Regions from separate parts of the Homo sapiens genome. Here regions 1, 2, 3, 4 and 6 are each reported to be linked to region 5. Evidence: microRNA targets listed by miRTarBase, many of them from high-throughput screens and not tested one by one. Region 5 holds a microRNA gene; each other region holds the end of a gene's coding sequence.
Evidence for each region. Region 5 holds the annotated microRNA hsa-miR-1237-5p (CGGGGGCGGGGCCGAAGCGCG, at 3,223-3,243, shown strand). A microRNA usually pairs through its seed, bases 2 to 8, with sites in the 3' UTR of a target mRNA and lowers its output. Matches are read on the target gene's strand: a 7mer-m8 pairs with bases 2 to 8, a 7mer-A1 pairs with bases 2 to 7 and ends in A, and an 8mer does both.

Region 1: the mRNA of G6PC3 is a reported target of hsa-miR-1237-5p. Seed matches in the 3' UTR shown: 7mer-A1 at 4,243-4,249.
Region 2: the mRNA of SIGLEC12 is a reported target of hsa-miR-1237-5p. Seed matches in the 3' UTR shown: 7mer-m8 at 4,245-4,251.
Region 3: the mRNA of NCKAP5L is a reported target of hsa-miR-1237-5p. Seed matches in the 3' UTR shown: 7mer-A1 at 3,543-3,549 and 7mer-A1 at 3,536-3,542.
Region 4: miRTarBase lists BARHL1 as a target of hsa-miR-1237-5p. Seed matches in the 3' UTR shown: 7mer-m8 at 1,036-1,042 and 7mer-A1 at 1,270-1,276.
Region 6: the mRNA of TACC3 is a reported target of hsa-miR-1237-5p. Seed matches in the 3' UTR shown: 7mer-m8 at 4,301-4,307.

What each region holds. Positions count from the first base shown.
Region 1 is chr17:44,075,428-44,080,496 of GRCh38, reverse strand. It overlaps G6PC3 (glucose-6-phosphatase catalytic subunit 3), which reads right to left. Exons shown (of 6, transcript NM_138387.4): 5 at 5,046-5,069; 6 at 4,153-4,817. The coding sequence ends at 4,454. HDAC5 (histone deacetylase 5) reads left to right here. Exons shown (of 27, transcript NM_005474.5): 22 at 1-96; 23 at 272-390; 24 at 1,220-1,353; 25 at 1,618-1,702; 26 at 1,832-1,997; 27 at 2,082-3,744. The coding sequence ends at 2,121. Among named protein-coding and RNA genes, the nearest start is that of G6PC3, 7.2 kb to the right of the region's middle. RefSeq lists enhancers at 2,932-3,471, 4,489-5,069.
Region 2 is chr19:51,487,197-51,492,265 of GRCh38, forward strand. SIGLEC12 (sialic acid binding Ig like lectin 12) reads right to left here. Exons shown (of 8, transcript NM_053003.4): 8 at 4,031-4,633. The coding sequence ends at 4,445. CEACAM18 (CEA cell adhesion molecule 18) reads left to right here. Exons shown (of 6, transcript NM_001405061.1): 6 at 3,391-4,105. The coding sequence ends at 3,456. Among named protein-coding and RNA genes, the nearest start is that of CEACAM18, 11 kb to the left of the region's middle. RefSeq lists silencers at 123-282, 1,526-1,706.
Region 3 is chr12:49,787,715-49,792,781 of GRCh38, forward strand. It overlaps NCKAP5L (NCK associated protein 5 like), which reads right to left. Exons shown (of 13, transcript NM_001037806.4): 11 at 4,964-5,067; 12 at 4,732-4,874; 13 at 3,438-4,337. The coding sequence ends at 4,125. Among named protein-coding and RNA genes, the nearest start is that of NCKAP5L, 38 kb to the right of the region's middle. RefSeq lists an enhancer at 3,033-3,875.
Region 4 is chr9:132,588,897-132,593,965 of GRCh38, forward strand. It overlaps BARHL1 (BarH like homeobox 1), which reads left to right. Exons shown (of 3, transcript NM_020064.4): 3 at 332-1,356. The coding sequence ends at 626. DDX31 (DEAD-box helicase 31) reads right to left here. Exons shown (of 20, transcript NM_022779.9): 20 at 4,101-5,069. Among named protein-coding and RNA genes, the nearest start is that of BARHL1, 8.8 kb to the left of the region's middle. RefSeq lists an enhancer at 3,538-4,039.
Region 5 is chr11:64,365,429-64,370,497 of GRCh38, forward strand. It overlaps MIR1237 (microRNA 1237), which reads left to right and starts at 3,174; the gene lies at 3,174-3,275. It overlaps RPS6KA4 (ribosomal protein S6 kinase A4), which reads left to right. Exons shown (of 17, transcript NM_003942.3): 9 at 1-37; 10 at 2,704-2,832; 11 at 3,040-3,173; 12 at 3,276-3,369; 13 at 4,018-4,191; 14 at 4,271-4,465; 15 at 4,797-4,956. RefSeq lists an enhancer at 3,731-4,250.
Region 6 is chr4:1,744,273-1,749,341 of GRCh38, reverse strand. It overlaps TACC3 (transforming acidic coiled-coil containing protein 3), which reads right to left. Exons shown (of 16, transcript NM_006342.3): 14 at 4,718-4,824; 15 at 4,510-4,630; 16 at 4,171-4,394. The coding sequence ends at 4,329. Among named protein-coding and RNA genes, the nearest start is that of TACC3, 25 kb to the right of the region's middle. RefSeq lists a silencer at 321-520.

The sequences.
Region 1 (5,069 bases), not on the chromosome of region 5:
TGGTGGAGGACCAGGCGTGGGGTACAATGTGAACGTGGCATGGACAGGAGGTGTGGACCCCCCCATTGGAGACGTGGAGTACCTTACAGCCTTCAGGTAGGGACTGAAAAGGGCCATGGTAGTCAGTGGGAGCCCCTCTGGGCCCTGCAGTGGGAGGGGCAGAAGGCACTCAGTTCAGTGTGGGTAGAGGGGGTTGTCTCTGGGAGGATAACAGTGGGGCGAGGCCTGGCCTGGTCATCTGCCGGGCTCAGCTTGAGCCATCCCTTTGCAGGACAGTGGTGATGCCCATTGCCCACGAGTTCTCACCTGATGTGGTCCTAGTCTCCGCCGGGTTTGATGCTGTTGAAGGACATCTGTCTCCTCTGGGTGGCTACTCTGTCACCGCCAGATGTAAGCCTGCTGGGGGATTGAGGGAGGAAGTGAAACAGTGAGGATATCGAGTCCAGTGAGGCATGGGGCAGGGAACAGACTGATATTGCAGCAGACGGGGAAAGCAGGGGGCAGGGCCTAGACTTGGAATCATCTTGGTAACTCCCCCAACTTGTCCTCTGCCAACCCCGGCCTTGAGGGGATAGGAGGTGGCAGTGGGGTAGCAGAGGATAGAGGATGTATCCTGCCGGAGCTGTAGAGATGGGCTTGTTGGTCCCTGGTGTTTCAGTGATGCTCCTTGTCATTGGATTGGAGTCTTCAGCCAGTCTGTTAATGTTTTGACTGTGATAGGGCATTTAGTTCACTGATGCTGTATTTTATTATGGATATATTTGGGTTTATATCTCCCATCACATTTTGTGCTATTTGTCCCACCTCTTGTGTTTCTTTTTCTCTCCTTTTCTTTCTTTTTTTTTTTTTTTTTTTTTGAGGTGGAGTCTCACTCTGTCACCCAGGCTGGAGTGCAATGGCGTGATCTCGGCTCACTGCAACCTCCGCCTCCTGGGTTCATGCCATCCTCCTGCCTCAGCCTCCCAAGTAGCTGGGATTACAGGCGCGTGCCACCATGGCCGGCTAATTATTGTATTTTTAGTAGAGACGGGGTTTCACCATGTTGGTCAGGCTGGTCTCGAACTCCTGACCTTGTGATCTGCCCGCCTTGGCCTCCCAAAGTGCTGGGATTACAGGCGTGAGCCACCGCGCCTGGCCTTTTTTCTCTCCTCTTACTGGCTCTTGAATTGATTGATTACCTTTCGCCATTTCTTCTTCCTCCCTTCACCCATCCTCAAAGGTTTTGGCCACTTGACCAGGCAGCTGATGACCCTGGCAGGGGGCCGGGTGGTGCTGGCCCTGGAGGGAGGCCATGACTTGACCGCCATCTGTGATGCCTCTGAGGCTTGTGTCTCGGCTCTGCTCAGTGTAGAGGTAAGGGGTGGGAAGGAGCTGGGAGGTGGCAGGCCAGAGGTCTGAGGGGCCAGCAAGGGGTCAGCCAGCACTGGGAGCCCCTTAGGAAGCTTTTCCTTGGTCCTAAGGAACAGCTAATGGCCAGGCTTTCTGAGTATGCGTTTGTCCAAAAAGGCCATGTTTGCCCCTGTTGTGAGGGATATCTGGGGCTGAGTGGGGCAGTTAGAGGGGTATGCATGGCAACCCTACTCCCCACCCTAAGCCTTCTCTTCTTTCCCCTGCCAGCTGCAGCCCTTGGATGAGGCAGTCTTGCAGCAAAAGCCCAACATCAACGCAGTGGCCACGCTAGAGAAAGTCATCGAGATCCAGAGTGCGTGAGGACACGTAGAGGGGCTCAGGCTGCCAAGGGGGCACGGAGCTTGTGGGAGCACCAGGACTGGGACTGTTCATGTGGGTGTCCTCTGCCCTCCCTGACCCCTTGCCTGTCTCTCGTCCACAGGCAAACACTGGAGCTGTGTGCAGAAGTTCGCCGCTGGTCTGGGCCGGTCCCTGCGAGAGGCCCAAGCAGGTGAGACCGAGGAGGCCGAGACTGTGAGCGCCATGGCCTTGCTGTCGGTGGGGGCCGAGCAGGCCCAGGCTGCGGCAGCCCGGGAACACAGCCCCAGGTAAGCAGCAACCCGCACCACCTCTCTGCCCTCACCCCTGCTGGTGCGCCCCACTCAATACCCTCCCCTGTGCTTGCCCCACAGGCCGGCAGAGGAGCCCATGGAGCAGGAGCCTGCCCTGTGACGCCCCGGCCCCCATCCCTCTGGGCTTCACCATTGTGATTTTGTTTATTTTTTCTATTAAAAACAAAAAGTCACACATTCAACAAGGTGTGCCGTGTGGGTCTCTCAGCCTTGCCCCTCCTGCTCCTCTACGCTGCCTCAGGCCCCCAGCCCTGTGGCTTCCACCTCAGCTCTAGAAGCCTGCTCCCTCTGCAGGGGGTGGTGGTGTCTTCCCAGCCCTGTCCCATGTGTCCCTCCCCCCATTTTCCTGCATTCTGTCTGTCCTTTTCCTCCTTGGAGCCTGGGCCAGCTCAAGGTGGGCACGGGGGCCCAGACAGTACTCTCCAGTTCTGGGGCCCCCCGAGTGAGGAGGGAACGGGAAGTCGGTGCCTTGGTTTCAGCTGATTTGGGGGGAAATGCCTTAATTTCACTCTCCTCCCTTCTCCAGCCTCAGGGGAGGATCTGGAGGATCCACTACTGTCTTTAAGATGCAGAGTGGAGGGGAGGTGGGCACCCACCCTGCGATTCTCCACCCTTTCCCCTTCTTTCGTCCTCACCATCTCTGCAGACCCCTCTCCTCCTCCTTCCTCTTGGTCTCAGCACTGATGGGAGGCTGGTGCCCAAGCTGTGGCCTGCAGTCTGTGAGGAGGGCTGTCTTGCCTCACACTCCTCACAGCCTACTTCCCCTTCCCCGGGGCTGAGAGGGTGAAAGTGTGTGGGGAAGGAGAGGACTGGTTTCCTGGGTTCTCAGGGGCCAGGAGGAGTAACAGAACCAGGTCTGCTCCCCACCTTACTCGGATGGCCTCCCTGCCCCTCTGCTGGCACAGCCTGGGCAAGGGGAGAAGGTGGTCCCTGCAGAGGGGCTCCAGGCTGGTGAGAGCCCCCCTGCTGTCAGGACCAGATTTTCCCAGCCATCCAGCATGCTGCGGGGAGAAGGGGCAGAGGCTCACCTCCCTCCTGGGGCCTTTTGTTTTGGATCCTGGGGATGGTGAGAATGGAGGTTCTAGAAGGGGTAAGGCCAGAACCCAGGGATCCAGGAGTCGGCTCTCAGCTGGAGCTTCCATACCTTCTGGGCTCCCTTTGCTGACCACCAGCCCAAGGGAGCTAAGACCAGGAGGGGGCTGGGCGCTGTCCCTTCTCTTTCCCAGGAGCCCTGCCAGGGGCTGTGGGCCTACAAGGCTTCCAGGGGATGCCATCCAGCCTGTAGGAAACCAAAGATGGGAAGTGGCTCCTAGGGGGCTGACTCTTCCTTCCTCCTCCTCCCCAGTACCACATATACTTTCTCTCCTTCTATCTCCAGGGCCCCACCAATCTGTTTACATATTTATTATCCTATGGGGGCCTGAGCAGGATTGAGGGAGCCAGGGGAGGGGCAGGAGTCCCAGCACCATCGGTTCATAGTGTGCTTGTGTGTTTGTTTTAGATCCTCCTGGGGGATGGGGATGGGGCCAGGCTCAGTGTACTAGGCCTCTCTGTGCTGAGCCCCAGGCTCCCGGCCCCTTACCCACTCTCTCCCTGTGGCTGGTCTGGTTCTCATGTAAACCCACTCCTTGCTTTGTCTCCCTGGATATGGATTTCAGTTAAGTATTTTGTAACCCGTTACACTGTGTGTCCTTGTGTAAATAAACTTGTTTCTGGCAGTGCCTTCTGGGGCCAATGTCTCTATTCTCTGGGCTCCCAAATGGAGTAGAGGTTCTCATCCTCCTTCCTAGCCAAACACACTACTCTTTTCTCCAGCCCCTGGACTAGAAGCCGATTTAGGAAACTGGAGGTTGGGGCGCAAGATCTGTCCTGTAAGTGAAAAGACAGGGTTATACCGAATATAGTCACAGCATCTCATGGGACCTCTCATGTGGCCTAGGCAGTGATGAGGCAGGGGACCCAGGGCTGAGAGGTCTCACCTGAGTTTACAGCCCTCTCCTTTCCTGCCTCTCTGCCCCTGGAAACAGGGCTGGAGATGGCACAGAGACTACTGGAGCAGCCTGGCAAAGGTTCCACTTGTGCACACACAGGCAAGGCCCATGGAGATGTGCGCATAGGCAAGAAAGGAATCTCAAAGTATTCAAGGGCTTTATTGGGGCCGCCCTGGCTGCCCCTCACAGTGTTGCAAGAACCCGCTGGTCTTGCTGTTGCCTTTGCTCTTTGGGGGCTTGAGAGGAAAGGCAGAGGGAGGACCAACTTATCTGGGAGAGAGAAGGCCCATCTTTGGGGCTAAGACCAGGTGGTGCGGAAGCAGATTTAGGGAGGGGAGGGCCTACTTAGGGGCTGGAAGGGGATGGGGCTGCCTCCTGGAGTGTGGTGGTCACAGAGTGTTGGCTTTGTGGGAGGGAAAGGAAAGGGAGGCACACAAGAAGTCAGGAAGAGTGGATGGGCGGTGCTTCCTGGGCACTGAACATGTGCACTGCCCAGGGCACGAGGGCCAGGACTAGGCATGGCCAGAGGGTGTACTTGAGGAAATTGAAAATGTAGAAGAGGCTGATCTGAGGGGGGTGGCCCAGCCAGTCCAGGGGGCCCAGCAGCCCCATGGCCAGCACAAGGCAGGCTATCTTCTGGCCATTTCCCAGCTGTGCCCGACGCACCTGGGCATAGCAGGGAGAGTGCAAGGCAATGCCCAGGCCCAGGGCAGCCCCTGAGTCACGGCTCAGGGAGGCAAAGGGCCGGCTATCCACGTGTATCCACTCAGGCCGCTCACACCACTTGAAGGCTAGGCTGATGGACCTGTGGGGAAGAAGAGTTCTTGCCAGGAGAGGCTGGAACATAGAAGGCCACTGGCTCTTGGCCATCTGCCCTTGGGGCCCACTCCCATGTTCTGTTTTGTGCCTGTGAGGGTCTATGTGAATAGGTAATGTGTCCTTTTTTAGCTATAATGAACCAGAGACACACCAGGCTAGGTGCAGGCGAGATAGGACAGGGCCCAGCCTGCCCAGGCTTCAAAGCGAGACTTACCAAGAAAGATCCAGGCCCAGTGTA
Region 2 (5,069 bases), not on the chromosome of region 5:
AGGCATGGTAGCTCATGCCTGTAATCCCAACATTTTGGGAGGCTGAGGCAAGCAGATTACTTGAGCCCAGGAGTTCAAGACCAGCCTGGGCAACGTGGTGAAACCTCATCTCTACAAAAAATACAAAAGTTAGCCTGGAGTGGTGGAGTGCTTCTGGAGTTCCAGCTACTCAGGAGGCTGAGGTGGGAGGATCTCTTGAGCCCGAGAGGCAGAGGCTCAGTGAGCCGAGATCGTGCCACTGCACTCCAGCCTGGGCAACAGACACCCTGTATAAAAAATAAATAAATAGGCCAGGCACAGTGGCTGAAGCCTGTAATCCCAGCATGTTGGAAGGCCAAGGCGGGCGGATCATCAGGTCGGGAGTTCGAGACCAGCCTGGCCAACATAGTGAAATCCCGTCTCTACTAAAAATACAAAAAATTAGCCAAGTGTGATGGCAGTCACCTGTAATCCCAGTTACTTGGGAGGCTGAGGCAGGAGAATCACTTGAACCTGGGAGATTCAAGTGCAGTTCAAGTGCAGGTTGCAGTGAGTCGAGATCACACCATGGCACTCCAGCCTGGGCGACAGTGCGAGACTCCATCTCAAAAATAAATAAGTAAATAATCTGTGAAGAAAAGGCCTGTAACATGAATTAACCAATATGGTAGCCACTAGTCATACGTGACTAAGTTTAAAATGAATTAAAATTAAATAAGTAAAAAATCCAGCTCCTCAGTCACACCAGCTCATGGCTATGAGATTGGACGGTGCCAATATAGACCATTTCGTCATTGCCAAAAGTTCTACCGGACAGCACTGCTGTAAACCAATTATGTAGAATGTTCTTAAAGAGTAAAAACAAAACCAAACAAAACCAGAAAAAGTAGAAAGAGACAACCACTAGTCCCTCCTCTGTCCCTCACCCCAACCCCAGGAACTATGCTGCATGGGAAGAGAAGAGAGCTCGAGGTGGAAACAGAATTCTCATATTCAGGGAAGAGCAGAGAAAAGGGGATTGCAAAAGCAGATGGAGAGAGTGGCCATGACATAGTGGGGAGGGGCTCAGGTCAAGGGCAGAAACAGAATGATATGATGGTATTAATAACAATCTCTGAGATTTTATGATGTGCTTACTGTGTACCAACCCTTGTTCCAAGGTATTTACTAGTAAGAGCTTACTTTATCCCCATAGGAGATATCCCTGTGAGGTTGGGACCAGTATTAGTTCCATTTTACACATAGCAAGTAAAGCACAGACAGGCTGACTCCCTGCTATCTCACTGTATGGTCAATGTTGTAGGCTCCTTTGCTAAGGGACCATGTAATAATCATAAATAGGTTCAATATCTAAATACAAGACCTCGCCTGGGAGGTCAGCGAGGTCTTGGAAATGCAGGGTTGTTGGCTAGTCTTCAAGAGAGGTCTCAAGACAAAAGGTCTCAGAGAATTCAGCTGAGAAGGGGTGGGCCCCTGCCTTAGGGTGGGCTCCTCCCTGGGGGCAGGCCCCTCCTGGACCTGGAACCACATTCTTCACAAGGGCTGCAGAAGGTGCCAGAGTTTGGAGTGGGGCAGGGAACTCATGTGGACAGGGCTCCAGAATCCCTCCTCATTCCCCTAAGAGCAGGGCCATTTCTGTTTTACGGAATGGATTCCATCCAGGGGTGCATTTTTGCTTTTGTGGGCCCTCCTCTAGAAAAATATTAAAAATTATATTTTACGACTATCTTGATATAAACATGTATAAAATATAGGGTGGGTTGTATTCAGTTTTTTTCCTTCTGATTTTAGAAGAAATTGAAACATTTTTGTGATCCCTAAAAGTATAATGGGCCTTAGTGCTTCTGTCCATAATGATCCTGCTTCCACTCGAATTTCTTCAGACGAAAAGTTTCCAGGGGTTTCTATCCTTGTGTTCAAAGTCATTGATGGAGACTGAATGAGGGACAAATGAATGAGTCACTGAGGTTGACTTAATGTCAACCTCATCATCCAAAGTGAAATTTTGGATGATTAGGTTGACATTAAGTCAACCTCAGTGACTCATTCATTTGTCTCTCATTCAGTTTCTCGGTCCCCCCACATTTCACCAAGCTCCTGGCTTTATTCTTGGGCCTCTGATGAACAAAAGATGAACAAACTGCTTTCCCTGCCCCCAGTAATATCACAGCTACCACGATCCAGCCCCCTCTTTCAGCTCCCCTTCTCCCTCCCCAAAAGATCACCCTGGAGTTACTCATATTTTAATCATGATTGGATCTGGATACCACCCAAAAGGCACAGGAGTGGCATTTCCTAGAATAAATGGTGGGGCAAGAGGGAGCTGAGGAGACACACAGCATACGTGTATGCGTTTTCACTATGTTATCTAAAGATTTTAGAAGATACATCTTCAATTATCTTAATATTTAGATATTGAGCCTATTTATGATTATTATATGGTCCCTTCACCAAGGAGCCTACAATGTCGACCATACAGTGAGATAGCAGGCAATCGGCCTGACTGTGCTTTACTTGCCATGTGTAAAATGGAACTAACACTGGTCCAAACCTCACAGGGATATCTCCTATGGGGATAAAGTAAGCTCTTAGTAGTAATTACCTTGGAAGAAGGGTTGGTACACAGTAAGCACTTCATAAAATCTCAGATATTATTATTAATGCCATCATATTATTCAATGTGCAATTCTAAACTGATTGTGATAAACTCAAGAAAGTTCAAGGGTATTTCAAAGAGTGTATCTGAATCACCTCATCTTCCACCACCTGGAAGAACCCCCCTGGCCTGGCAGAACCACCTCCACGCCACTGTCCCATTCCTTTCAAAGGCGCCATGTTCTCTATGGTCTGGGGCCTCCCCTCCGATATGAGAGCAGGGATCTGGAATCAGAGAAGCCAGTTTGGGAATATTGGCCTCTGTTATGTTCTGGCTGTGTGACCTGGGGCAAGTAACATCACCTCTCTGGACCCTCATTTCTTCATCTGCAAATGGGTTAAAGTATCTGTCTTGCTTGGCTGTTGGGAGGGTTAAAGATAACCCTGTCATAAGTTATAGTGCCTGGCATATAATTGGTATGAAGTAAATTACTGTTATTACCTCCATCATTGTTGTGATCCCTCATAATTAGGCCAACAGTGCCCACTCCTTCCTCAGCTTCACCCGGCCTCTTTCTCCCCACACAGTGGCATCTTCCTCCAGTGCCCTCGGAAATCTTTAAAAGTATGGAGATGTTGAGGACTCTCGGTGCAGAGGTGCAGCCCTCAGACCATCTCCTCCATTGGGTCCCATGTGAGGAAGACTTAGGCTTGGACTTGGTGGGAAGTCGGGCCCCTTCACCTCTCTCTATCCAGGACTCTCCCATGTTTCTTAGGGACCTGAGATGTGGCTTCTTCCCTGATTTCTCCCCATAGGACAAATCGGGCTCCATGAGTGTCCACCCCAGACCTGAGGACAAGACCAGAAGGGCAAGCAGGTGAGGAGAGGGTGATGGAGAAGGGCTGGGGGTCCCCATAGGGCCAGCGAGGCTGAAAAGGGTCCAGGGTCTCTTTGGAGGGTACTGGCAAGAGAGGGACCCAGCCCAGTCACACGGAAGCCTGGAGATGGAGGCTCCAGTAGGAGGTCTGCAGACCCCACCCGGGACCTGAAGATGATGTCGTGGGTAGCGTGGCCATTGGGCGCTTCATCTGCCAATCAGAGCTGGTCAATGGGTTGCAGGTCGGGGCGGGCCATGCGCAAAGCTGGGCTCTAATTCCAAGCGCCTCCTCCCTCAGCTCCGGCGCTTCCAGCTTCTCAGATTTCTTCACCCATGGAATCAACAGCGATGCTGTAAACTTATGGCCAAGGGGTGCCAATCAGTGGTTGTTCCACTCAGTGCCGAATGAGAGAAGAGACCTTAGAATCAGGCAGGGATTAAATTTCAGTCCTGCCCTGAGTACCGGAGCGACCTGAACGCAGCCCCAGTGAGGCTCCCTCACCTGGATGCACCGTGGAACCATCGTCAGCATGATTAGCACATCCGTCAGCTCAAATATTTAATTTTTTTTTTTTTTTGGTGACAACATTTAAACTCCTCTCTTTTAGCCATTTTGAAATATTCAATACATTATTCTGTTATTTGGAACAACACGGATGAACCTAGAGAACATTATGTTGAGTGAAATAAGCCAGGTACAGAGAGACAAACACTCTACGATCTCACTATATTTGGAACCTAAAATAGTCGACCTCAGAGAAGTAGAGAAGAGAATGGTGGGTACCAGAGGCCGGGGGCGGGGAGTGTGGACCGATTGGATGGAGAAAGGGAGAGTTTGGTCATCAGGCACGCATTTTCAGTTTGACAAGAGGAATAAGTTCTGATGTCCTGTTGCACAGCATGGAGGGCTGTTAATTCTAAAGGAATCAGTCTCGGGCTTCTTTGCTGCAGGGGTCGTGAGCCCTCAAACAGGCCTGAGTCTCTGCAGTTTCTCACTTGGGGATGTTGATCTCGGAGTACTCATAGCCGATGGCCTCCTGTTCCTGTGGGTACTGAGGCCTCGCTTTGTGGAAGCTGAGGGATGCATACTGGATCTCTCCTTCCTCTGGGGAGGGGGTGGCCAGGGCTGGCGGAGCATGGTGTGGGGGGCTGTCATCTGCCGGGGATTCAATCAGGGGTCCCTGAATGGAGGAAGAGAAGGGAGTCAGTGCAGAGCAGTGGGGCCAGCATGCACCAGAGAGCATCCAGGAAGGAGGCCCAGGAGTTCCTTCCTCCATTCATCCCATGTGCACTTTGCTGAAATCTCTTTAATACGTTCCTCTAATGTCTAATACTCAATTATCACCTTATGTGGTGTTTACTAATCTCATTAACTTCCAACAACAATTCCATAGTAAGATATTATTATTGTCTCCATTTTATAAATTTGAAAACTGAGGTAGAAATGGTTAAGTACCCTGCGCAAACTCCCTCTTATACCGGGACCCAATCCAGTCAGTTCCTTCTGACCCCAAAGCCTGGAGTCCTGCTGAGGCCTCCTGTGTGTGAGTTCCTGGGCTGGGTGCTGGATGGACTGTGGTGGACACGGTAGGCATGGGCTCTGACCCCCTGCATCTC
Region 3 (5,067 bases), not on the chromosome of region 5:
AACCACTGATCTGCTCTATACTTCCATAAGATCGGCTTTTTCTTTTTCTTTTTTTTAAGATTCCACGTATCAGTGAGAACATGTGGTATTTGTCTTTTTGTGTCTGACTTATTTCACTTAACATAATGTTCAGGTTCAAATAATTTGTTTCAAATGACAGGATATCATTCTTTTTCATTGCTGAATAGTATTCCACTGTGTAGATATACCACATTTTATCCATTCATCCATTGCTGGCATTTAGGTTGACTTCAATTCTTGGCTATTGTGAACAGTGCTGCAATAAACAAGGGAGTACAGATACCTCCATTTACCCACTGGTGGGATTGCTGGATCATATAGTGCTCTACTTTTAATTTTTTGAGGAACCTCCACAGTTTTCCTTAATAGAGGTACTAATTTACATTCCCACCAACAGTGTGTAAGGGTTCTATTTTCTCTACATCCTCACCAACACTTGTTTTCTTTTGTCTTTTTGATAAGAGCTATTCTAACTAGAGTGAGGTGGTATTTCATTGCAGTTTTGATTTGCATTTCCCTGATAATTAGTTATAACATTCAATTTCAATTCCTTTTTTTAAAAACCATGAACATATACTCTTTTTTTTTTTTTTGAGACAGAGTTTTGCTTTTGTTGCCCAGTCTGGAGGGCAATGGTGCAATCTTGGCTCACTGCAACCTCCGCCTCCCAAGTTCAAGTGATTCTCCTGCTTCAGCCTCCCGAATAGCTGGGATTCCAGGCATGTGCCATCACGCCTGGCTAATTTTGTATTTTTTAGTAGAGATGGGGTTTCTCCATGTTGGTCAGGCTGGTTTCGAACTCCTGACCTCAGGTGATCCACCCGCCTCGGCCTCCTAAAGTGCTGGGATTACATGCATGAGCCATTGTGCCTGGGGAACATATACTTCTATAATTTCTATTCCTTTAACAATTAAAAACCTTTTAAGGGGCCAGACACGGTGGTTCACACCTGTAATCCCAGCACTTTGGGAGGCCGAGGTGGGCAGATCACGAGGTCAGGAGATTGAGACCATTCTGGCTAAGATGGTGAAACTCCACCTCTGCTAAAAATACAAAAAATTAGCCGGGTGTGGTGGCAGGAGCCTGTAGTCCTGCCTGGGTGACAGAGAGAGACTCCGTCTCAAAAAAATAAAAAAAAAAGTTTTAAACGAGAAACAATTATTCTCTGCAGCAAACTCTAGATATATACCCTCATTCTGTAATCCTGTGTGAGTTAGTTCAAGCATATAAATAAATTACTTAAGGCCACATGAATTTGAAGTTAATACAGGTGAGCATTTCTATAGTCTCGGGAAAAAATTTTTTTTAACTTTTTTTTTTTTGAGACGGAGTCTCACTCTGTCGCCCAGGCTGGAGTGCAGTGGCGCGATCTTGGCTCACTGCAAGGCCCGCCTCCTGGGTTCAAGCAATTCTTCTGCCTCAGCCTCTGGAGTAACTGGGACTACAGGCGCGTGCCACCACGCCTGGCTAGTTTTTTGTATTTTTAGTAGAGACAGGGTTTCACTGTGTTAACCAGGATGGTATAGATCTCCTGACCTCGTGATCCACCCACCTCAGCCTCCCAAAGTGCTGGGATTACAGGCGTGAGCCACTGCACCCGGCCTTAAAACTTTTTTTGATAAAGAAAACAAAACAGGTTGGATGCAGTGGCTCACACCTGTAATCCCAGAACTTGGAGAGGCCAGGAGTTTGAGACCAGCCTGGGCAACATAGTGAGACCCCATCTCTACAAAAAAAAATTTTTTTTTTAAAGAAAACAAAGCACACTATTTGTAGAAATCTACAAAAGGGTAAAGAAGGAAAAAAAAACCCACTGGCTACCCAGAGAAAACTTGAGTTAATGTTTTTGGGACATTTCCTGCAAAAGGCAAAGTGCCCAGTGAAGTTGAACCTGAAGCCTTGTCATAATCTTTTGCTGATGCCTTGATGCCATTTTGGGGGATGGGGGAGGTGGCCTGGCAGTTTTGTCTTCCTTTGTTTGGAAAATCCAGCAGAATGGGTCTTGCACATTGCAAAGGCAAACATTCACCTATTATTCTTGGAGAAAACAGTGAATTTACCTGAATTCTGCAGGAAGATGTTGCAAACTGAGATATGAAGTGTTCTGCCTTAGTAAGGATCAAATGGTCTTTTAGCCTAACCTTTCTTTGAAGTGCAAGAAATTGATTCCCCAGGAGTGTCTTTAAACTCAACTGCATGTCCTCCTCCACAGAATCATTTTAGATAAAATACTGGGTCTGTGTGAAGGGCACACAATTATGTAGGCTGTGGGGTGGCTCATCTGGATCCAGGGTCTCTTAGCAGAATGCTGGGGGATTTAGGAAGTTTCCCACCATGGAACAGTTGGTAGGCAATGGCTGCCTCCAGGCGTCAGGTGTGACTGATGCCACCTGCCCTGCCTTGGTCAGTCAGCCCACATTGCCCTGGAAACCAAGGTGACGCCTTGTATTTGCAAACACCAGAGAATAAAGCCTAGGCAGATGGATCAGACCCTGGTGGTAAGAATGCGGATGGACCCTCTGGTCTCAGCTTGAAAGAGGTGGAGTCCTGCATCAAACCTACTATGCCAAACTCCTTCCCCAGAAGGAAATAGGAGAAATATCCTGCAGGCAAACAATTCTGTTCTAACTAGGAAATGAGGTAATCTACCAAGTTCAAGCAGAGAAGAGGGCTTGAAAAACCAAGAAATAAAAAGTGGGAAGGAGGTAGACCTCTTGAAGCCCACCTGGCAAGAAGCAGATTTACAGCTTGGTAATATTATGCTTAAGCCCATAAAAGCAGAAAAGATAGGACAGTGGGATAGGAATCTGGAAGTAGAAGACAAGAGGTAAGAAAATGGGATACTGACTTAAAAAAAAAAAAAAAAACCCAGACATCTGACTTGACACTCTCCGTCTTGTTAATTTCTTCAATGATGATATTAACTAAGAAGGGGTAGGAAGAGAATTGGGGAAGGGGTAGGAAGAGGAGAATGCTGAGAAGAAAGTCTGGCTGATGGGACCAGCTCGTCTGGATTAACTTTCTAATCTTCTATAGAGGAGGAAAACCAAGGTCTGGAGAAGAGATGCAACTCTACTCAGAGTCTGCATGTCCCCCCCAGCCTGGGACACGTGGGGCCTGAGTGCATGTCCACAGCCATCTTCCCCAGCTCCCTCTCCAAGGGGCCACCCAGCCTCGCGCCGTGCCCAAGCCCTGGCCCAGGAGAATCTCTCCGAGCCCAGATACCCTTCCGGGCCTAAGCAGGCCCTACTCTCCCAACCCTCAGTTACCTTCTGGGATGACTCCAGCCAGTTGCCCTGGTGAGGGGGCTGTGTCACAAGGGGGCCTGGGGTCCCTCAACCTGGCACCCATGCAGTGTCCCCCGACCTGGCCTGCCTGAGTCCTCCCACACAACAAGCCGACTCAGGGGCAGGGAGGGGGCCTCCACATTTTATTAGGGATACGGCAGAAGCAGAGGCAGGAAGCAGAGCAGCCGCATTTTAAACAACACATAAATTAACCGCAGTGCGGGGCTGGGGGCTGGGGGCTGGGCCAGGCGCTTCAATATATAAAAACAACAACAAAAAAGACGGACGAACAGACCCCAAAGGCATGGGGCAGAGGAGGGCAGCACCATCCAGACAGCAGGGAGGACCAGGGCAGAGAGAGAAGGCAACTTGTCCCCCTGGCCCCCAAACTCCACCAGCACGGGGGCCTCCAGGAGGGCCTCGCGAGGGCTTCGGGGCAGAGGAGCAGCCGGGTTGGGCAGAGATGGCACGGCTGGTGGGCAGGAAGCCCAGCACCACAAGATGGCTCAGCCTGAAGTAGGGACTGGAGGGCTGCGACACAGTGGCCTTTAACCCCCAGTCCCTTCCAGGAAGAGCCTTACTCTGGGTGAGAGAAGGGACCAAGGGCGGGGTCTCTCCCTGAGCTGAGCACGGTCATCTCATCCGCCGAAGCAGTGGGTGGTGGGGTGTGCCAGGGACCCCCTTTTCACCTTCTTATCCACCTGCCTCCTTGGTCCCTTCAGGGAGGGGTCCCCGTCTCCGGGGGCTGGGCATGAAGAGAGCCGGTCCAGTCTGTGGTCCCCAGCTCCAGCGGGGCCGTGGCGTGGCGCAGCCCCTCAGCCCTGACTCCCACAAGAGGACAGCGAGTCGTAGAGTGAGTCACTGAGAGACTCCGAGGTCTCCAGCCCTGGGGGGCCCCCGCTGGCCACTCTGCCTTCCTCGGCCATGTCCGAAGTGCTGGGGGTGCGGCTACCCCCGAAAGGTGGGCCCTGGGGCGTAGGGGACGGGCGGCTGGGCTCCTGGCTTCGCTTCCGGTCCACGGGCAGGGCCTGGGAAAGGAGGGGCAGCTCGGGAGGAAGCTCCTCTCCACCTTTCGGCCCAGCCTCAGAGGCACTGAGCTCTGAGGGGCGTCTGTGCACCTGATGGGGGGCTGCTCCAGAGGGGGCCCAAGGTGGGGTATACTTCAGAGGAAACAGGCTGGAGGTACAACTGAGAACAGTCCTACAAGGTTCTGGGGAGGGACAGAAACCTTTCCCCACGAGAGAAGTGCAAGGAGGGCAGTGGGGAGGGCCGCTCACAGGGCATCCCAGGGGTCCTCCTCCCAGAGGGTGCAGCACTGAGACTGTGCGACACACAGGCCGTACCTTACTGGAGAAACTGGTCTCCCCACATCACTCCCTCCTGCTCCCGAGTCCTTTCCCTTTCCTCTGCTGCAATTCTCACCATGGGGGTCCTGGGCAGCCCCTCCAGTTGTCGGGGTGGGCACATGAGAGGGTCCGAGGAGCTGCCGGCTGCCCTAGTATTGGGGAAGGTCCAGTTCTTGGCCAGCTGGACAGGAGGGGTGGGGCCTGGGTCTTCACAGGGATCTGTCCAGGAACAAAGGGAAGGTGGATGGAGCTGCCTGGGCAGCTCCAGGATGCCCAGGGGCATCCCACCCTCCCACCTGGACACTCACCATCAGGACAGGTCTCATGGCCCCGGTGGCCCGGAGCAGCGGGTAGCAGTGCAGGGAAGGCTGGCATGCTGGGGTGCCGCCCACTCACCAGCAGCTCCTCTATG
Region 4 (5,069 bases), not on the chromosome of region 5:
CGATCTCCTGGGCAGGGTAAGGCGCAGTTAGAGCCGGGCTTTGGGGTCAGACAGCAGGGCTTAAAACCCAGGCTCCTTTTTGAAAACCGGCCCAGACCTCAGTTTTCCTCTCTGTAAAGTGGGGTAAGAGCCACGGAAGGCCGGTGGAAGATAAAAGGAGAGGATGCACGTAAGGCGTGCGATGGTGCCTGGCACTCGGTTATTTATTAACAAATGAGTACGATCCCTCTTGGCCTCCCTACAGGCTCTCTGGGCCAAGCAGTGGGGAGGGGCTGGGGTCGCTGGATGCCCTAGCCCTGATCCCGCCATACGCGTTTATTTCGGCCCCCAGGACTAAATGGAAGCGACAGACGGCCGTCGGGTTGGAGCTGCTGGCGGAGGCAGGCAATTACTCAGCGCTCCAGCGGATGTTCCCGTCGCCTTATTTCTACCCGCAGAGTCTGGTTTCCAACCTGGACCCCGGCGCGGCGCTCTACCTGTACCGCGGCCCCAGCGCGCCGCCGCCTGCTCTCCAGAGACCTCTGGTGCCCCGCATCCTCATCCACGGACTCCAGGGCGCCAGCGAGCCGCCCCCGCCGCTGCCCCCCCTGGCCGGCGTCCTCCCACGCGCCGCGCAGCCTCGGTGAGGCGCCCGTCGGCTCCGGGGCCTCCTCCCGCGGGCTCGGCGTGGCCCCTTCCGCCCGCCTTTCTGAGGGCGCAGGTTCGACGCCCTTTCCCGGGAGGGGGCCCTGCCCGGCCCTCCCTGGCGCCCCAGCCCAGTGCCCCCCGAAGGGCCAAATGCCAAGTCCACTGAGGCCCGGACCCCGGACTGCGTCTCCCCAGCCCCCCTCGGCGTCCTCTCTCGCGGCCGCTCTGTCCGGGAGCCATCCCCACCCGCCGGGTGTACATACGCGTCTCTGCCACTCCCCACCCCCAGCCTCTGCCGGCTCCCCTAGGCAACCCCTTTCTCCCCAGGAGCGGGTGCGGCTGATTCCCAGGCTTCGCTCTCTCCCACGCCCCTTCTACGCTCCAGGTGGAGAACAGCCCCTCTCCCCGCGCCCCCGCCAGGGAGAGAAGGGGAGTGCGGAGCCCCGTCTCCCTACCCCTCGAGCACCTGGGCCAGCGGCTGAGCTGTACATACCGTGTGCAAAGTGTATATGAAGTTATTTATTCGTGACCCATGAGCCCGTGACCGTGTCCGTGGATTAGTGAGTCTGTGGCCTGTGCCCTCCCCACTCCCAGGCGGGGCAGGAAGGGGCCAAGGGGGCTTGCCCACCCACCCCGACCCCAGCCCCCAGCCTCAGCCCCGGTCCGGGGGCAGCCAGGCCTCTCGGGTTCTCTCTTTTTTAAATGTCGAAATAAACTTCTTACAAATGACCAGGCGCCTGTCCGCGCTCGCGTCGCTGGGTCCGCACTCAACCCCTCTCCCATCCCTCTCCTGGGGACTCGGTTTCCTTCCATCCTCAATAACGAAACATTTTTGTCCCCCTTCTCTTCCCCGGTGCTGTGGACATGCGCGGGGGCCCCGACGGGACTCGCTGGGGCCCGGGTCTCCCCTCCCTGGCCTCAGTCTTCCCATCTCTACAGCGAGGCCAGCTCGTTGTTCCCCTCCTCCTCCTCTGTCTCCATCTGGTTCCTAGCGGCTCCCAGACGGTCCCGAGGGCCGGGGCGGGGGTCCGTGCCGGAACAGGCGGGGGTCAGCGCGGGGCCTCGGTCGGCTGCGGGCCGGGCTGCGGGGCCCTCGCCGAGCCGACTCATCTGGCCGCGACAAGGGCCCCGGCAGCTGGTGACCGGCCCGCCGGGCGCGGGCCGACAGATGGGCTCCGAGGCTGCTCCCCCCATCACTCCCACCCTCCGCCCAGCGTCCGGCCGCGCTCGGGCTCCCGACGCTCGCGGGCGCCAAGGCGGCCCGGGCCTCCCGGCCTCCCGCACCAGGCAGGACTCCGCGCGCCTTCGCTGCGAACCAGACGCCACATCGGGTAAACCCCCACTCCCACATCTTCTCACCTCCCCTTTACCCCGGGAGGAGGTTGGAAATGAGACCCAGAGGGGAGCCAAATCCCAGCGTCTGCCCCATCTCTTCTGGCTGCCCCAGACCGCAGCTCTAGCATCTCAGGGGAGAGGGGTTTAAGTCCCGAGTCAGACTCGAGGCTTCCAGTTCACGTCCAAAGGGCCACGGTCACCTGAGACTGCTCCCTCTCTGGGGAGGTGGGCGCAGGTGCTCCCTTCCCACACACCACCTGCAGCTCGCTAACCCTCAGCGCTGGGAAGTTTTGGGGGCCGGCAAGCCGTGGCCCCTCTAGTTTGGGGGCAGGGTTTCTCTGAAGACGGGGGCTGTGTTCAGACTATAACCCCTCTCGAAAACCATACCCACAGCCAGGTCCGCTACTGTTTCCTCCCTGCCCCGAAACACCCTCGCACAGCAGCTTTCTTTCCTGGGATGGCGAGGGTATTATTCTAATTTTGCAAAATGCACAGCAGCTAATTAAGTCAAGGAGCCCCTCGGCTTTCGAGTTCTTTTGCATGTGAATGGGGGTTGGTAAATCCCCAGCTCTGGCTCTGGTGGGGGGTGAGGAGAGACTGTCCCCAACTCAGGGTTAATGAAGTGGGAAAGGAGTCTCTCATAGCCTCCTGCAAACAAAACCCCCCATGCAACAAACCCTGCCCAAATCCTACATGGATTGACTTAAACCCAGGGGATAAGTGCTTTAAATTAATCTCATTGAATAAGAATGAGACCAAACAAAACTCTTTAAAATCATATTAAAAATCTATCAAAGGACAACTTGCACTGGTGTGCTTTTCATTTTGTGAAAGTGAAGGAGATAGACCGTAGCAACCACCCTCACATTTACACAGTGGCAGCGCAAACCACAGACACATTCTCAACTATGTAATTGTCCTTGTACCTCAGAGGCGATTTCATATCCTACATTAATGAAGAACAAGGCTTCCCTACAAGTTTATAATTAGAATATTTTAAATTGTCCTGCACATCCCATCTGTAATAATAACTTCACAACCTTTGCAGTGAGGTGGGCTCCTGCCTTCCATCCACTTAGAAGGCTAAATTGGTTTCTGTTCCCAACCCTGAGGTTGGGCGAGCTCTCGTGTAAGAAAAAAAGAATGAATGTGGGACCCCAACAGGCCTGACAATAGGAGAGGGCTGAGAAGCCATCTTCCCCCGCTCTGCCACTGACCCATCCCCCCTCATAAACGCCGACTCAACAGGGAGGGGGCAACAAAGTTGAAAAGAAGTTTAGAGCTCCCTGCTGGCCCTCGGTCGCAAGGGAAATTGAGGACTGGGGCAAGTTGAGAACCTGAGCTGATTTTCAGGGTGCCCCACTCCCCCCACAGCGACAGGCCTGGCTCTGGATTCTTCCTAGTGTGGAGCAGATTAAGAGATAATGTCTAATGATCAAGGGGGAGGTTTAACAAGACCAGTTAAGAAGCCTTTTCAAGCAGGGCAACTTCTCCCGTGGAAAAGCCTCCAACTTGCGTCTCTACAAAGCAACGCCCGGATTTTAATGGCTTCCACTGACTGTGGCCTGAAGGGCTAAGCGGGGAGGCCCCTGGCAGTTTGGGAGATACCTGCTCCGAAAGGTCTCATTTACTCCCCTCTTCCCTAAAGTTCTCCTCCCTTCACCCCAGGGGGAAAAGAAAAAAATCAAAATAACCCACTGGGCTTCGTTAAAAAAAAAAAAAAAGTCCTTTACTGAGATTTGGTTGGTTCGTTGCTTCTCTAGAGTGCAAGGGGCTGTCTGCACATCAGCACGGACTTCATCTCTCAGCAAGGGGTCTCTGCCCTTCAGTGCGTGAGAATGAGGCCCGTCAACTGCTAAGGCTGTGGCAAACATGAGGATGTTTTGGTTTCCAAAAAAACATTCTACAAGCCCACTCGGGGGAAACGCTTTTAGGCTGCAACATTCTATTAAATGTCCAAATTCTGTGTGACTCTAAATATGGGAACCAGGCTTATGATATAGAGACATGAGTAAGTTTGGGAAATTTTAAAAAGAGGCATGATTAAACATACACAAAAATTAGAATATGTACAGTGGAATTAGGCTAAAGCTTTGCCTAATTGGTGCCTGAAATGTATAATCTGTCAAGAGCCATAATAGAAGAGAAAGAGATTTATTTTAAGGTTATTTAAATTTAAACAATATTAACCTTAAATCTGCTAAATCCATGTTTCTTTATTAACTGGGGTAATATAGTGATTCTACTTAGAAACAGACCCACATAGCATCTATGGCAAGAAACCCTCACCATAAGAGTTAGCAGATTAAGTGTGTAAGTTTTGATCTTGGAATTATCGTCACTCACACGTTGCATGATTCTAGCACTTCTCTTTCCCCCCAGGGATGCCGAACTCTGCCAATTCGCCCTTTAGTGGAATGAGTACTGGGGGAGAAAAAGTAAGGTTTCTCTTTGATCATCCCCAATCACTGGCATTAATCCTGTTTTTCACACAGCTGGGTTTTGTCTATAAAGTTTGATCCCTCCTTTTCTCATCCAAATCATGTGAACCATTACACATCGAAATAAAAGAAAGGTGGCAGACTTGCCCAACGCCAGGCTGACATGTGCTGCAGGGTTGTTGTTTTTTAATTATTATTGTTAGAAACGTCACCCACAGTCCCTGTTAATTTGTATGTGACAGCCAACTCTGAGAAGGTCCTATTTTTCCACCTGCAGAGGATCCAGTCTCACTAGGCTCCTCCTTGCCCTCACACTGGAGTCTCCGCCAGTGTGGGTGCCCACTGACATTCACCTGTGTCTAGAACGGAGGCAAGGATGCTGACCCCCCGTGGTCCCTGCAGGAAGGCCCACCTTGCCAACTCTCACCACCCTCTCGTGGCCACTCAGACCTTCCAAGGATCTGGGGGGATCTACTGAAGTGGTGCCTCAACACTGGTCCTGGGGAGACCACAGAGGGCGGCACAGTCACTGCAGAGGAGAAGGAAACTGAGAAGGCAAGACACAGTGGAGAGGACAGGAGCGGTGCCCACAGGTGTGGAGGCCTCCAACCCTTTCTCTTCTGGACCCCTCTGCAAGTGCCCAAATCTTACATTTATTGGGAAATC
Region 5 (5,069 bases):
TGGCAGCCCCCCACCTGGGGACCCCCGAATCTTTCAGGTGAGGGGAAACTCATGGAACCCAGATGCAGGAGAGATGAGATGTTGCTGTCTGCCTCAGCCCTGGCTGGCCCGAGGACACTGCCTAGGCCTTGTGTCCTGATTGGGACTCAGCGTCTCCCCTAGACGTCGCCACTTCAGTGGGACCTAGGGTTGTCAGTCACAGAGACCACCCAGGCAGGATGTGTGTTTGATAGTTCATGGTTTATCTTTAAACCTTCTGTTAATTTCCCTTCTATTCCATCATCTCTTTATTGTTATGTAAAAATATTGTTTGAAATTATTCACTTGCGGCTGGGTGTGGTGGCTCACACCTGTAATCCCAGCACTTTGGGAGGCTGAGGCAGGTGGATCACTTGAGGTCAGGAGTTCGAGACCAGCCTGGCCAACATGGGGAAACCCCGTCTCTACTAAAAATACAAAAATTAGCTGGATGTGGTGGTATGCGCCTGTAATCCCAGCTACTCGGGAGGCTGAGGTGAGAGAATCCCTTGAACCTGGGAGGCGGAGGTTGCGGTGAGCAGAGATCACACCATTGCATTCCAGGTTGGGCGACTGAGTGAAACTCCGTCTCAAAAAAAAAAAAAAAGAGATCTTCACTTTCTCACGTGGACACCTAGGAGGAGATGCATGTTGATATTGTGGCTTTGCATGCCCTTGGCATAGCATGGTACACTCCTGGAGGGTCAGGTCCCCTCCACCGAATTTTTTTTTTTTTTTTTTTTGAGACGGAGTCTCACTCTGTCTCCAGGCTGGAGTGCAGTGGCTAGATCTTGGCTCACTGAAATCTCTGCCTCACGGGTTCAAGCAATTCTCCTGCCTTAGCCTCCTGAGTAGTTGGGACTACAGGCGTGCGCCACCACACCCAGCTAATTTTTGTATTTTCAGTAGAGATGGGGTTTCACCATGTTGGCCTGGATGGTCTCAATCTCTTGACCTTGTGGTCCGCCCACCTCGGCCTCCCAAAGTGCTGGGATTAGAGGCATGAGCCACCATGCCAAGCCCCCTCTACTGAATTTTAGAAGCTTACACCTTTTGGACAAGTCCAAACTCCCTTTGCTTGGGCATTGAGGCCCTTCATGATGTGGTCCTTGCTTAGAACCTTAGCCTCAGTTCTCATCATTTTCCTACTTGATGCTCTGGAGGGCATGATCGAACTGCTCAGAGGTTCCAGAATATACCTCTGTGCCTTTGCACTTGCTGCTCCTGCTACCTGGAGTACATTCTCTACAGCAGTCTACATGGCAAGCTTCTACCCCTCTTTTAGGCCTCCTTGTCTGCTCACCTGGCCCAGGGGGTCACCCTTTCTTTGTGCTGCAGTCCTCTGTGGACAGCATCTCCTTCTGTGCAGTTTATCATGTTGCCATAATGATATTATATCATTATCACTAAATAAACCAGTATGGTTTGTTTAATAGACAGACCAAGTATGGCTGGATAAGTCCCTTCTCTGAAGCTCTTAGAATTGACAACTCTGTGCTTGAATGTCCACATTCCATTCCATTGTCTCACAGCCCTCATGATAAAGTTCTTTCTCTTGAATTGGTAGGTACTTTCATTCATTCATTTAATGATTCAAAAATGTGTAGTGAGTGCCTAAAATATTCCAGGTACGGATCTGGGTACTACATTTTTAGGAGAAGATGACACATAGTTTATTTTTAAAATTATTTTTTAAAATTAATTAATTAATGTTTTAGAGACAGGATCTTGTTCTGTGGCCCAGGCTGGAGTGCAGTTGGGCAACCATGGCTCACTGCAATCTTGAACTCCTGGGCTTGAGTGATCCTCCCACCTCAGCCTGCCCAATAGCTAGGACTACAGGCAAGTGCCACCACTCCCAGATAATTAATTTTTTTTTTTGAGACGCAGTTTCGCTCTTGTTGCCCAGGCTAGAGTGCAATGGCATGATATCGGCTCACCGCAACCTCTGCCTCCCGGGTTCAAGCGATTCTCGTGCCTCAGCCTCCCGAGTAGCTGGGATTACAGGCATGTGCCACCACGCCTGGCTAATTTTTGTATTATTAGTAGAGATGGGGTTTCTCCATGTTGGTCAGGCTGGTCTCAAACTCCTGACCTCAGGTGATCTACCTGCCTCAGCCTCCCAAAGTACTGGGATTACAGGCGCAAGCCACCGTGCCTGGCCACAACACGCAATTAAAATGACCCTTAAAAGCTCCTCAAATTGCCAGGACATGGATCTTTAGGAAAAGCAAAGAATTAACTCTGCCTTCTTTTTGCATTTCTTCAGTAGCTCCCCTTGCAGAAGAAGCCAAAGTCCGGCTTGAAAGGGAGGAATAAGTTTTTTTTCCTCAGCGGATAGAGTTGGATTCTCATAAGCTAAGCGTGAACTCAGGCCACACTTTCAATATATTCATTGGTCCTTTCAGTGCCTTCAGCCCTTGGCACCTGGGGAGGAATAAGTGGTCACTCTGATGAGAAAGTTGGGGTCACAGGCTGGTGGGGACAGACATGGCCCCAAGTGATTATAAAACCAGGTGGAATAAAAAGTGTCCACACATCCTGTGTGTACCAGAATGCAACTGGAACACCCCCCACTGCCCCCTTGTCCAGGGTCTTGCCTTTGCCTGGTTCCCCACCAGAGTCTCCTCACCCGCACCCCCAACCCCCATGCCCATGCCCATTCCCCGGACTCCCGCCCTGCAGGGATACTCCTTTGTGGCACCCTCCATTCTCTTTGACCACAACAACGCGGTGATGACCGATGGGCTGGAAGCGCCTGGTGCTGGAGACCGGCCAGGTCGGGCAGCGGTGGCCAGGAGCGCTATGATGCAGGTGGGCTGGGCTGGGCTGGGTTGGGGGGAAATTGGTTTTAGGAGAGGCCTAGGCCCGGGGACTCTAGGCCTAGATCCAACTGGCGCCCGCAGCGTGAGCTCAGCAAGGTCCTAAGCCTCTCCGACATGGGGCGTGGCGGGGCCGCGGGGCTACCAGGTGGGACCTCTGACGCGCCGCCTTCGCCTTCGCCTTCGCCTTCGCCTCCAGGACTCGCCCTTCTTCCAGCAGTACGAGCTGGACCTGCGGGAGCCTGCGCTGGGCCAGGGCAGCTTTTCTGTGTGTCGCCGCTGCCGCCAGCGCCAGAGCGGCCAGGAGTTCGCAGTCAAGATCCTCAGTCGCAGGTGGGAGGGCCCAGGCGCGGGCAGGGGTGGGGGTGGCAGAGCGCTGTCCCGGGGGCGGGGCCGAAGCGCGGCGACCGTAACTCCTTCTGCTCCGTCCCCCAGGCTGGAGGCGAACACGCAGCGCGAAGTGGCTGCCCTGCGCCTGTGCCAGTCACACCCCAACGTGGTGAATCTGCACGAGGTGCATCACGACCAGGTGATGGCTTCCGGCCAGGGGAGGGCGGAGAGAAAAGGGGCAGGCGGCGGGGCTTGGGGGCACTATGGGCGGGATCTAGGGGTGAATTGGGCGGGGCCTAGCGTTTGATTCGGGGCCCAAAGGGACCAGGGAGGCGCAGGGAGTGGAATTTGAGGGGAGTAGGGCCTGAGGACGGGAAGGCGGAGCTGAGGATGGACAAGAAAAGGGACTTTGGCCGGGCGCGATGGCTCACGCCTGTGATCCCAGCACTTTGGGAGGTCGAGGTGGGCGGATCACTTGAAGTCGGGAGTTCGAGACCAGCCTGGGAACATGGCGAAACCCCGTCTCTACGAAAAATACAAAAATTAGCCGGACGCGGTGGCGTGCGCCTGTAATCCCAGCTACTTGGGAGGCTGAGGCACGAGAATCGCTTGAACCCGGAAGGCAGAGGTTGCAGTGAGCCGAGGTGGTGCCACTGCATTCCAGCCTGGGCGACAAAGCGAGACTGTCTCCAAAAAAGTAACAAAGAAAGAAAGAAAGAAAAAGGACTTTGAGGAGGGGGTTCTCGAACATTGGCAGGGCCCGAAGGCCGGGGGCGGGGCCTGGGTGGTGGGAGGGGGCTTGCCGCCGTGGGTGGGTGTTGACCTTGGCCCGCCACGCCGCCCGCAGCTGCACACGTACCTGGTCCTGGAGCTGCTGCGGGGCGGGGAGCTGCTGGAGCACATCCGCAAGAAGCGGCACTTCAGCGAGTCGGAAGCAAGCCAGATCCTGCGCAGCCTCGTGTCGGCCGTGAGCTTCATGCACGAGGAGGCGGGCGTGGTGCACCGCGACCTCAAGCCGGAGGTGGGCGAGCTGCCTCGGCGGCGGGGCGGAGCGGTGGCGCCGGGGGCTGCCTCTGACCACTACCCCGCCGCCCTCGCAGAACATCCTGTACGCCGACGACACGCCCGGGGCCCCGGTGAAAATCATCGACTTCGGGTTCGCGCGGTTGCGGCCGCAGAGTCCCGGGGTGCCCATGCAGACGCCCTGCTTCACGCTGCAGTACGCTGCCCCCGAGCTGCTGGCGCAGCAGGGCTACGACGAGTCCTGCGACCTCTGGAGCCTGGGCGTCATTCTGGTATGGGACGCGGTCCTTGAGGCGGGGTCAGGGTCGCTCGGACCTGGCGTCTTCCTGATGTGCAGCAGCACGAGGGAGGGGACAGGGGTCATCTTGGTGGGGGCGGCTGGGTTTCGTCCGAAGCTGGGATCGGGGTGGTTCAAATACAGAGGTGGGGTCGCTCTGGTGCTAGAGTCGGAGCATCCGGGTATTGGGGGTTAGAAGTCAGGGTTCACCACGCGTGGGTCTCAGGAGTGCCCCTAGTGGGGAGGGTGAGTGGTTCTGTGGGAGCGGAGGGGTCAGCCTCGGCACCCCAGCCTGGGCCGGCCTCACCTTCCCCTCACCCTCCTAGTACATGATGCTGTCGGGGCAGGTCCCCTTCCAGGGGGCCTCTGGCCAGGGCGGGCAGAGCCAGGCGGCCGAGATCATGTGCAAAATCCGCGAGGGGCGCTTCTCCCTTGACGGGGAGGCCTGGCAGGGTGTATCCGAGGAAGCCAAGGAGCTGGTCCGAGGTGCGGAGCTGGAGGTCATAGACCATGGTTGGGGAGGGGGACGCTGGGACAGGGATGGTCACTGGGCCAGGTGTCCTGGTTGGGGATGGGTAGGGGAGGAGAGTGGGGCTGTT
Region 6 (5,069 bases), not on the chromosome of region 5:
GGGGAGGGGGCGTGTTGGGGAGGGGGTGCCTTGGGGAGGGGGGGCAGTGGGGAGGGGGCGTGTTGGGGAGGGGGTGCATTGGGGAGGGGGCGCAGTGGGGAGGGGGGAGGTGGGGAGGGGACAGGTGAGGAGGGGACAGGTGGGGAGGGTTCGTGGTGGGGAGGGGGCAGGGGGAGGGAACAGGTGGGGAGGGGTCGTGGTGGGGGGACAGGTGGGGAGGGGGCGTGATGGGGAGGGGGCACGTTGGGTGGGGAGGGGGCACGGTGGGGAGGGGGCGTGGTGGGGAGGGGGTGCGGTGGGGAGGGAGAGCGGTGGGGAGGGAGAGCAGTGGGGAGGGGGCAGGTGGGGAGGCCCTGTGGGGAGGCCTGGTGCGGGCCCAGGTGGCTCCTCGTCGCCCCAGGGTGGGGGCCCCTCCTGGAGGCCTGTGGCCAGGCGGTAGGAACAGCCTGGCAGGAGTGCGGTCGCGCCGGGTCTGCAGAAGGGGCTCCGGTGGCCCAATGGCGCCCCCTGCAGGCTGTTGGGGTCCAAAGGCTCAGGCAGAAGCCCCAGGAGTTCGGGGTCCCCAGAGCTCGGGGGCAGCCAGGACGTACACGTTCCACCCCTCCAACCCACGGCACAGGTGGCACGCGCACCTGCTACTGGAGCACACCCCAAGGAAGGCCTGGGCTCGGGCAGAAGCCCCTCCTTGGACCTCGTCCAGCCTCAGCCCTGTGGGGACAGGGCTTTTCCCTCACGTGCTCCAGCTTCCTGAGCGGCTGCTGGCCCGGTCCTGCCCCTCACAGAGCTCCCTAAGAGAGACAAGGGATGTGCGCTCAGCCCACCAGGGCAGTCCGGCGCGGCGCCGGGGCTTAGTCCCCAGGCCTCCGGGGGTCCTTCCCAGAAAGTGGAGTGATGGGCTGGAGGAGGGACCTCCGGCAACCACGTGGGCTTGCAGCGACCCTCACTGGCATGGACCTTGGGGACCGAAAGGGGTCTGGGGTTCAGCCTGGGCTGGGGACAGCTCCTGAGTCCATGGGAGGGTGATCTGGGTCTGCCTGCAGGCTGGGTGAACTCTCTCCCGGGGCTCAGGCTGGGTAGGGCAGGGTGGGGGCTGCAGAGGGGTGCCTGGCAGGGAACGCTCGGGCTGTGGTCAGCTTGTCCTGGCCTATCTCCCTCGCCCCCACCCCCTCTTCCATCCAGCCTGGTGGCTGGCGGCCCCTGGAGAGAGCATGGGGGCATGGGAGTGAGCTTGGAGGGGCAGCCCCACCGGCCCTGTTGAAAGGGTCTTGACCAGCCCAGGGAGGCAGCTGCAGGTTCCACTCCTAGGTGGCCTTAGAGGGGTGGGGGTGCCCCACAGACCTAGCTTCTCCATGTGGGCTGAGCCCTGCACTCCCCTCGGGATTTGGATATTGGCTGCAGGGGGAGCTGGGCAGTGGGTGGGCACCAGGCTGGACAGCCCCTCGGACGGCGGGGTCTCATCCTGCCTGGGACCAGATGGCTTGCACCACAGACACGTGTTTCTCTGGGTTCTGGAGGCGCCAAGTCCGCCATCAGGGTGCTGGCGGGTCAGTTCCTCCAAAGTGCTCTCCCGGCCTGCTGCCTTCCCGCAAGGACACTAATCCCAGCAGACCAGGGCCTCACCCTCACGACCTCGTCTAACCCTCACCCCTCCTTCCAATGGGGCACGTCGGGGGGGTGTTTCTGAGCCCTGCCCTGAGCTGTGGGAAGGGCAGAGCCGAGCGCTGCCTCCATGACTGTGTATGAGGACTCCCACGGAGGCAGCCCCCAGGACAGCTCCTGTTTCCTTGAGCCCCCCACAAGGCGACTGCGTGGATGTGCAGGGGGTCCGGGGCTGCGGAAGTCCAGGCCACGGCTGCGTGCCCAGCTCAGGTCATGTTTACCAGGCAGGCCAGTGCCAGGGCCCCCGCCCGGCCTCGCAGCCCTGAGTTAACTCAGGCTCCAGGATAAACACCCATTCAGCCACACAAGGCCCCTTTGTCCTGGGAGAGAGGCTCCCGGCCCAGGACGCTGCCTGGTGGCCGGTGTCCTCGGCGCGGCCCCAGGCCCGGCCAGGTGCCCTGACACGTTCAGCCGCCCTGCACGGCCTTCTCCGGGCAGGCTCCCGGCTTGGCTCAGAGAGGCCCCAGCAGGGGACAGGGCCCTGGGCAGCTGTCAGAGGAGCCAGAAGGCCAGACCGGCAGGGCTGAGTGAGGAGGAGGACCTGGCAGCCGCCTTGTGTCCTGAGACCTTGTCAGAGCAGAGCTGACCCGGCAAAGAGAGGTGGGAGTCCTGCGGCCGGACATGCCTGTGGGCAGCGGGGAGGCCGAGGCGGGCCGTGCTGCCCATAGGGCAGCTGGTGAGCTCTGGAGGCTCGAGGGCCCTTCTTCTCCCCCATATCCTCAACCCCAAGCAGGAGAGGGGGCCCACACCCTGTGCTTGGCCCGTCTCCCCCGGCCAATGGCCACTGGTCTGTGGGCCTCGGTTTCTCGTCTGTGAAGTGGGCCACGGAAGGCTCTCAGAGGCCCCTCAGCCAGGGATTACACCCTATTGTTACCCAGGCTCGGGGCTGAGATGGGGGTTGCTGCCCACGGGAGGGAGGGGCGCGATGGTCCTGGGAAGCCAGTCAGGAGGTGCCGCAGGAGCACAGGTGGGCTGTGGAGGGGGAGGGAGTGGCCCCCAGGCCCCCCTGAGGCTGGCCCAGTCCCTGCCCCAGCCGTGACTGGCCATGGCCCGCTGTGGCCGTCCATCCCTGTGCCAGGCCCCCTCCTCCAAACGTGCTAAGAACAAATGCACCCTCATGCCCTTGGGGACACCCCACTGGCCACCCAGGCTGAAGCCCCTGCCCGCCCCTCAGCCTCCCTGGCGGTCCATGCGGCTTCTTGGCACCCGTGCCCCGCCCCTTCAGGGTGTCACCCACCTGGTCCGGTCCCTGCATGGCCCATGGCGGCAAGCGACCCCTGGCGGCGGCTGGGGGTGTTGTTGCGCCCACCCGAGGTCAGTACTGCAGTGCTGCTCACCAGGCCAAGGGGCAGACTCGCAGAGCCTTGGAAGCAGGTCCTGGGACTGCAACCCCCAGGCTCAGACACTACTGGGGCCAGGTGACTGCGGCCAGATCTCGGCCTGGGTCCCTCCCTATGTGGGGAGCCCCACTCTTCACTGATGGGAGAAAACGGCTTTTCTGGACGGCGTGATCTGGGCACAGCAGCAGCACCGACCCCTGGAAACAGGTTACAGCGTCAACCCTTGGTCTTGCCTGGCCCCTCAGGAGGCCCTGGCCCTCTGGCTGGTGCTGGGGTCCTAGGTGCCATGGCTGAACCCAGTGACCAGCATCTCTCAGCTCGGTACCCAGGTTCCCGGGATGCCCCAGCTGGGCCAAGCCTCTGCCTGACCAGAAGGGCTCCTGGAACTGCCTTGGGTTCCAGTGTGCCTGTCTGAGTTTGAGATCCGCAGGACGGGACTGCTGGAGATGGGGTTAGGGTCGGGGAGGAAGCCCTGCCGTGTGGAGACAGAACTTCCTCAGGGAAGCCTGTTTTGCTCTGAAGTCTCCACGCCCCCAAGGACGAGGACGACAGGAGCTGAGCAGCTGCACCTGCAGGGGGCCTCCCTCCACACCCACACCCAGGTGAGCGCTCAATTAGCTGGGGCTGCAGGCTCGCCAGGTCGGCACCAGAATCAGAGCCACCGGCATGCATGCCTGGCTGTTCACAGTTTTTGTTTTATATGAAAACTTCCCCGTCTCTACTAAAAATACAAAAAATTAGCCGGGCGTGGTGGCGGGCGCCTGTAGTTCCAGCTACTCGGGAGGCTGAAGCAGGAGAATGGCGTGAACCTGGGAGGCGGAGCTTACAGTGAGCCGAGTTCACGCCACTGCACTCCAGCGTGGGTGAGAGACTGTCTCAAAAAAAACAAAAAACAAAAAAACAAACAAAAAAACGAGTCCATTTGGACTTTGATGTGTGTACCTGAGGCCAGGACCATGTAGCCAACCCGAGGTGGCCGGGGCAGACTGGGCAGGCCTGAGCCTCCTCTATCCACTGGCTGTCCCTGCCCCTCGGCAGGGTGGCCTGAGCCTGGGGTAGGCAGGGACCAAGTGGCCAGCTCTGAGGGGAAGGGAGGGCACCTGCGGGTCGGCTCAGCCTCAGGCTAGAGCTGGGAAACCTTTGCTTCATCAAGACCAGAGCGGCTTCAGTGTTTAAATTGAAAGGAAACTTTTATTGAGTCATGTTTTCAAAGCAATCTAGTTTTTAAAAAAGTTGAAGACAAGACAGAAAAAAGAACATGACACCTAAGAGAATCAGACAGGACAGACAGACGGGAGCAGGGGGGCGGGGACAGCGGCTCCGTGGAGGTCAGATCTTCTCCATCTTGGAGATGAGGTCGTCGCAGATCCTGGTCAGCTCCTCGTTCTCTTTAGTCTGGAGGAGGAAGATGAGTTGCGGGGCTTCTCCCTGCTTGGAGGGAGCAGCAGGCCCAAGGGCCTTCTAGAAGGTGCTGCCAGACGGCCCCTTGAGCTGGGCTTCCCGCACCCACCTTCTGCTCCACTGTCTTCTCCAGCGACTGGATGCGCATCTGCTCCTTCCTCAGGCTGGCCTGGAGGGCCAACGCTTCCGCCTGGGCCTTGCTCCGGACCTGGGCGATCTCCTCGTTTGCCCTGGAGGGGTAGGGGCGGGGCAGAGGCTGAGCTGGGGCCCAGGTGCTCAGATTCTCCCTCCAGGGTGGGGCCTCGCCCAGCACTCACAGCTGCAGCTTCTCCTCCGCGTGGGCCTTCAGGGCTTGGTACCTCTGGCCCTCCTGGGTGATCCTTGCCAGGTAATCCTCCACGCACTTCTTCAGTGACTCTTCGTTCTAGGAAGGGGCAGGCATTAGCTGTGGGTACCACGCCGTCTGCTGGAGAGCACCCAGGCTTGGTGTCTGGGGACCTGCAGATCCTCGAGGCTGTCTGGGGCATCAGCCGTGAGCCAGTAGCTCCCGTTTTCCTTTTGGAAAAAGCCCCTTCACACAAGTTCCCAGCTCACCCCCTCTGGAGGTTCAGGACAGCCCTGGCTCTCCACCCTGAGATGCCGGGCCTGAACCTGGTGCCCTCACGGCTG